2 linked regions of the Homo sapiens genome follow. The protein of the gene in region 1 purifies or fractionates together with the protein of each later gene. This does not show direct contact. Each region holds a gene or a part of one and is shown on either strand. Other genes may lie near its edges.

Region 1 (3,650 bases):
GGCTCTTGCTTCAGCTTCCCCTTCCTGCTGCCCGGCAGACCTGTGGTGGGAGTGTTGGTTGCCCTACCTGGGGCCACATCTTTGTCCGGTGCTGCCAGCTTCATGATTATCACTTTCTCCCCACCTGAAACGCCTTTCTGGGCTCATGGCATGGCTGGCATTCCTTGGCCCACTGTTTCTCAGGTCCACATAACCTCCTTGTTGTCTGACCACCTTCCCAAATGTTGCCCAATCCATCCTGTCTTATTTGTTTTTGCACTAACCACAGATAATTATTCGTTCCCATATTACTTGCCTTCATCTTCCTAAATGCATCTTCTCGAATGCAGGCACCATAATCAGAGATGCCATGCGGTCATCCTCTTTCTGTTTCCAGCAACTATAGCAGGGGCTGGGTCCTAGCAGTTGCCTACGTAATATTGCTAGAATTAATGAATGAGAACAGAGTCTTAAAAGGCAAATTCTGGCCAGGCACGGTGGCTCATGCCTGTAATCCTAGCACTTTGGGAGGCCGAGGTGGGCGGATCACTTGAGATCAGGAGTTCAAGACCAGTCTGGCCAACATGGTGAAACCCCATCTGTACTAAAAATATAAAGTTTAGCTGGGTGTGATGGTGCATGTCTGTAATCCCAGCTACTCGGGAGGTGGAGGTTGCAGTGAGTTGAGATCGTGCCACTGCACTCCACCCTGGGTGACAGAGTGAGACTTTGTCTTTAAAACAAAAAAAAAAAAAAAGCAAATTCTACCTCACTTTTAGTCCCAGTTGCCCTGGACTGCTTTGTTTTGGCCAAAAATTATGTTGTGTCCTCCCCTGTGTCCTCCCACAATGAGACCCCTTCCTTGCCACAGACAAATAGGGCTCTGCCTGGAGGCATTGTCAGAACCACTCCAGATGGAGTCTGTGGCCTGGTTCTATTCTATCAGAACTTATCGAAGATCCTGAAACATTTTCTGCAAGACATACTCCAGGATCTTTTTGGAGCCTGGCTCCCATGCCACGGTCCCCTCCTTTCCGTCTTCTAGGATTCTACAGTAAGATCTTGGATAGAATGGGTGGGGCCAGCAGGGTCTGCTTGTGAGTGACCAGCTACCACAGTCGCTGTGCTAAGGGGAGCGTGAGAGTTACTTTGTCCCCTTTTCACTTGCCTGTGGACAGCAGGTGGAGGTCTAGCTGGATGTTTTCTGGGTGATGTTTGTTCTGAGCACCATCACGGTCCCAGGCCACCAGACGTGCTGTGTGCACCTGCTTTCCCAGGGCGGCTCCAGTGCAGGGGCTCATTCTACAGCCACACGGGCACGTGGGAAGCCGGGGCTCCAAACCTTGTTGTGGTTTCTGAGGACTCTGGCTGTGGCTTTGCACAGTCCCCTTGCAACCTCCCAGGCCTCACTCTCCAGCAGCTCAGGAGGCAGGAGGCTGCAGGTGGTGCTGCTGCCCTCCTGCTGGAGGGATCTGGTGTTTGTAAAGCATGGGCAGGGGAGTGTCCATGTCATGAGGAATTCTTACTCCTGGGGAGGAGCAGCAGCCTGGAAAAAGTCCTGATTCTTGAGATTCAAAGCATGAGTCTGAAGCAGCTGGAGCCAGGCCAGCCTTACCTGTGCGGGGTGTTCTGTCCTATAAACACCTGAGTCAAACACAGGCTGTAGATTTTGCTGGGTGAGAAGGGAAGATCCCTGGATGGCTGGGGATATTGACAAGACACGAATTCCTGGGGACTGTAGGGATTTACCTTTGTAGCCCTCTCGCTGCCTGCACCTCCATTCTCCCTCCAGATAAGGGAACCATCCACCCAAACACTCTGTGCCCTGGGGCTGTGTCGCCCTCGCTGTGCTCTTGGCAAGTCCCTGTGATGCATGATTAAAGCAACTGAGAGTAGATTTAATTTCTTGGTTGGTCTTTCCCTTTTCAAAATGAAAGTTTTAAGTGTGGGGACTTTCTTACAACATGATTATTCTGTACATTTCCAAAGAAAGAAGAATCTGCCCTACATCTCAGGCTGCTCTCCAGCCTGCACCTAAGCTTTATTTTCTTCCCAGAGACTGTGCTAGGCTTTGTAGTAACACTTCTCCCCGCTGCCGCATGTGATTTTGCAGAGCGGCATCCTTCTTGCTTCTCCAGCTTATTCTCTGTTTGTCTCATGCTCCTATAAATACTCAGGCCCTGCCACAGTTTCTTTAGCAAGCTGTCACTGAATCCTCAAGATAATTTAAGAGGAACACATTTTTAAAGTTGCCTTCTGCAGTCGTCCATGTGTAACAGTTAAGAGTTAAAAGCAGGACAATCTGGTGCCCCGGAGCTTGCTTTCTGGAAGGGAAGAAAACCCTTTGTCTTTGGGGTCTCTAGCCTCGACAGGGCCATGTGGCTCGGTGGCCAGCAGGTCAGAGGCCTCTGCCTTTAATTCTCTTTGAATTAGATCTCAGAGTCTTCCCCAGTGCTAACCGTGGCTCTGTGCTGACTCAGGCTCTACCACTGTGGATAAATCACCTCACCTTGGGGACCTGAGCTTGCTTGGCTGTGAAGTGATGGCTGAGATGTGCTCCCACTTCTCACAGCAGTCTCCTGGAACAAGGCCTGGGCCCAGGAGGGCAGGTGCACCAGGATGTGGGCTGGCTTTTATTGTGTAGCTTTGGGTAGGACCAGCCATGTCCCCAAAGCACAACAATTTATGTCAACTGACATTGGCGCCAACTTGGCCGGTTTTATGTGAGTGCCATGGGCAACACCAGCATTGTCCAGAGGAAACTAAAAGTTGGGATCTGGATCCCAGGCCTGGCTCTCCCCCTTGCATGGGAGGTGAATTCAGGCAAGTCCTTTCTGGGCCTTGGTTTATGGATGTGACCCTGGCCACCTCGCCAGGCAATAGAAGAACCAGGACCCCAAATATTTGTTGTTCTCTTCTGAACACATCTCCGTGTGCATATCTGAGGGGCACTGGAAATCCAGCATGTCCAGAACCAGATCTTTCCCCCAGCCTGCATCTCTGTCCTTCCAGACTCAGCCTGCAGCCCCCATTCATCTCCCTGGATGACTGCAGACCCTGGAATCAAGCTCAACTTGCTCCTCCTGCCTCAGCATCCCTGGGTCGAGTGGATTTACCCTCAGAACACCCGGTGTCCTTCCTCTCCGCCCACCTTCCACTGCTCTAGTCCAGAACTCCAGCAGTTTCCTCCTTGGCCATTGAAACAGCTTAGTCTCCCTCACTCTCTGTATTCTCTCCCTCTCCAGTTACCAGAGTCACCTTAGGAAAACTGGCAAACTCCTTCTCAAATCCCTGCTTATCCTTCAAAACCTAGGTCACACGTCACTCCTTCTTTCTGTGGATTTTCTAGAATAACAAAGTCCACCCTCCCCCCTGCCTCATCCACACACCTCTGGGATGAGTTACTGCTCTGGCAGCATTGTCTCTAGGTTTCCATGAGAGCCTGTCTCCTGTGGGATCGTAGCTGTCTTCCCCCAGGTCTGTGAACTCATTGAAGGATGGACCATGTTTAATTCATCTTTTGTCTGCAGTGCATTTAGCACAGTGCTGGCTCTGAACCTGCTCTATTTGTTTGTTGAATTACAATAAACTGATGAACTGAACCAAATCCCCTCACTTCTAATCTCAGCAAAGTGCTGCCGCCCTATTTTCTGTTTTCATTTAAAATTTAT
Region 2 (3,650 bases), on another chromosome or scaffold:
CTGGCCTGCCCCCAGGACCCCTATACCTCCCAGCACAGCAGGCAGCCTCCAGGATCCTATTTAGACCTATGGCTCAGCATCTGTTCTGATTCATTGTTGTCCCCTCTGTACCCATGTTATGCTTTCACCTCTCACCCCAATGGAGTCACACAGGCCTGAGTTTGAACAGTTAACACAGCTTGGAAGGGACACATGCCTGATTCCCATCCTTGGAGAACAATATCATGCTATGAGGAGTAGGAAGGGCAAGAGATATGAAAAGAACAGAGGAAATGTGGTTCCTAGAAGTCAGAAGGCATCAAGGGTCCATCAGTGTAGAAGTGGCTGGGGCGGGAGACGTAAACCTCATCCACGGTGTTCTGGCCAGCCAACAGTGGGTCACCATTCGGCATGATTTCTTCAATCTTTACACAGTTTCTGAAGACTAGGTAATCCAGAGAGAAAAGTGAGGCCCCGATCTTAGTTAGGAGTTCCCAACCCAGCAGGGAAAGGGAGGGAGGATGGCAGGAAAGGCCTGGGAAGAGCCTGAGTGGGAACTTGTGGGATGAAAGAGCAGGGAGGTGGGGGAAGGCATGTGTAATTCCTAAAAAAAGGAATCACAGAATGGACCTCTCTCCAATGAGGAGCTTGGAGTTCAGCTTTTTCTGTAATGGGAGAGGGAGAAGAGGTAGGAAAGGGAATGTGTGCCATCTTCCATAGCTCCATCTCATCACTTACTTTCCATTGGCTCAGTGTTCAAATGTCTCAGATCACAGGGCAAATCTGGCTCTGGCACTGGCTGTGATACAGGTCCTTGGTCTGGCTCTGGCACTGTTTGTGATACCATGCATAGTGTGGGCTCTATCACAGGCTCCAGAGTGGACTCCAGCACAGACTCTAGCTCTGGCCCCAGATCCAGCCCTGCCTTCAGCAGTGGCTCTAAGTCCAGGCTGAGCTCTGGCTCTGGCACCAGCCCTAGTTCCAGCTCTAATGACTCCAGCTCTGGCTCTGGCTTAAGCTCCAGCGGTTGTTGCAGTTCATCCACCTGTCTGGATACCCAAAGACAGACAAAGGGGCAGGGCTCAGTGGTTCAAATGAAATCAGGAATGGTAGAATAAGCAGAAGCTAGTCTAAGAAGGCAGTAGGGCGGAGGGCTAAAGAGCATGGGTTTGGAATCAGGCCTCCTGGAGTTTGAATCCTGGCTGGGGGACCTTAGGCAAGTGGCCTAACTTTTCTGAGCCTCAGATTTATCATCTATAAATGAGAACAATACCTAGTAATTCTTGAGAGGCAGTAGGGTGGTTAAAATCAGGGCTACGGAATCTAACAGACCTGTATCATTAGCCACGTACCTTAGGTACAAAACTTGACTACTCTAAATCCAGTTCCTTAGCTGAAAACAGTAACAGTGTTTACTTCACAGGACTATTTTGTAGATTCAATAAAATGAGAAAATAAATGCAAACCATTTAGCCTAGTGCCTGGCGCATAATAAACTCTCAGGCCAGGCATGGTGGCTCACACCTGTAATCCAAGCACTTTGGGAGGCTGAGGCGGGCAGATCACTTGAGGCCAGGAGCTCATGACCAGCCTGGCCAACATGGTGAAACCCTGTTTCTACTAAAAATACAAAAGTTAGGCCGGGTGCAGAGGCTCACGCCTGTAATCCCAGCACTTTGGGAGGCCAAGGTGGGCGGATCATGAGGTCAGGAGTTTGAGACCAGCCTGGCCAATATGGTAAAACCCTGTCTCTACTAAAAATACAAAAATTAGCCAGGTGTGGTGGTTGTGCGCGCTTGTAGTCCCAGCTACTCAGGAGGCTGAGGCAGGAGAATTGCTTGAGCCTGGGAGGCAGAGGTTGCAGTGAGCTGAGATCGTGCCACTGCACTCCAGCCTGGGCAACAGGGCGAGACTCTGTCTCAAAAAAAAAACAAAAATTAACCAGGCATGGGTGGCGCTCGCCTGTAATCCCAGCTACTCAGTAGGCTGAGGCAGGAGAATTGCTTGAGCCTGGGAGGCAGAGGTTGCAGTGAGCTGAAATTGCACCACTGCACTCCAGCCCGGGCAATGAGAGTGAGACTGTCTCAAAAAAAAAAAAAAAAAAAAAAAAAATTCTATCCCCAGCCAAGTGCCATGGCTCATTCCTACAATCCCGGCAATTTGGGAGGCCAAGGCAGGAGACTGCTTGAGGCCAGGAGTTCAAGACCAGCCTGGGCAACACAGTGATACCCCATCCCTACAAAAAATTTAAAAAATTAGCTGAGTGTGATTGAGTGTGATGGCGTGTGCCTGTAGTCTCAGCTACTTGGGAGGCTGAGGCAGGAGCATTGCTTCAACCCCTAGGTCAAGGCTGCAGTGAGTCATGATTATACCACTGCACTCCAGCCTGGATAACAGAGACCCTGTCTCAAAAAAAAAAAAAAAAAAAAAAAAAAAAAATATATATATATGCGGGGTGTGGTGGCTCACGCCTGTAATCCCTGCATTTTGGGAGGCCAAGGTGGGTGGATTGCTTGAGTCCAGGAGTTCAAGAACAGCCTGGGCAACATGGTAAGACCCCATCTCTACAAAAAATACAAAAAAAATTAGCTGAGTTTGGTGATGCATGCCTGTATTGCTTGAGCTCAGGAGGTCGAGGCTGCAGTGAGCCAGGATCACACCACTGCACTCCAGCCTGGGCGACAGAACAAAACCCTGTCTGGAAAAAAAAAAAGCTCCATGCTTGCATCAAGTAGGTACCCATTAACACCAGTGATTATGATCATTATTATCCAGAAACCCCTGTGGAGACAACCTAAGGATGGCAGCAGAAAAATATGAGATAGGAGAGACTAGAACCAGAAAAAACTAGAGTGGGCTAGGAGGGAGGGAAGGCTGGGGAGACTGGAATAGGGCAGCTTAGGAGAAGGCAGAAAGGAGAGGCTGTGGGAATGGCAGGGCAGAGCAGCTGACCATCATCCTGGTGCTCCACCCAGGAGAAGGTAATGCCCCCTTTTGACGATTCACTGAAGCAGAGCCAAAAAGGATTAGGGAGGATGAATGAAGAGTTCATATCTCACCTATTAGAGACCACAATGAGCCTGTGTTTCAGGTATTTCCTCCGTTCCTGGAGATTAACTGTGAGGAACATATACAAGAAGCAGAGAAGATCAGTGGGCCAGACATATAGCCTGAGGTTCCCCTAGTGCAGATGGTCCTGGCAGTCTCATCCCCATAGTAACCAGCAGTATCCCATGGACGAATCCCTTAATTCCTCTAGATATCAGTTTTCCCATGCTTTAAAGGAAGGAGTGGGATCTATGGATGTCTGGTAGATCTCTGCAATCTAGCAATGAAGTATGTCAACGATTCCCACCTTTCTCCTGGTAGTAGCACCCAAAAGCTTCATCCCGGGGGATTCGGGGATAGAGGAAGCGCAGTGGGTTTTCAGGTATATTCTCCTCAGTGAGCAACTGGTAATGGCGGATGATTTCAGTCAGCGGGAGTGACTGCAGCACCTCCTTCGTGTACGGTTGCACAGAGTAGATGAGCACCTTGTCTGGAGAGTGAATGCAGGAACAGGCGGGCTTGAGGGAAGAGGCCGGGCCTTGGAGCTCTCTGCTCTGGCTGCCCAGTCCCAAACCAGCTGAGGGATTCAGTTCAGAGCCAGGGAAGCCAAGGGCAGGCAGAGG

What was found. Proteins that work in one complex are often made in the same cells at the same time.
Region 2: the proteins of INSYN2A (region 1) and STAT2 purify together in Homo sapiens (affinity purification with mass spectrometry; 2 studies listed by BioGRID and IntAct, with this or other methods). This does not show direct contact.

What each region holds. Positions count from the first base shown.
Region 1 is NC_000010.11:127,140,956-127,144,605, forward strand, and holds part of INSYN2A (inhibitory synaptic factor 2A), read right to left. Parts: intron 1-3,650. UniProt on the Homo sapiens protein: Component of the protein machinery at the inhibitory synapses, probably acting as a scaffold. Inhibitory synapses dampen neuronal activity through postsynaptic hyperpolarization.
Region 2 is NC_000012.12:56,343,108-56,346,757, forward strand, and holds part of STAT2 (signal transducer and activator of transcription 2), read right to left. Parts: intron 3,518-3,650; coding exon 3,335-3,517; intron 3,097-3,334; coding exon 3,039-3,096; intron 1,029-3,038; coding exon 718-1,028; intron 425-717; coding exon 282-424; 3' UTR 1-281. UniProt on the Homo sapiens protein: Signal transducer and activator of transcription that mediates signaling by type I interferons (IFN-alpha and IFN-beta).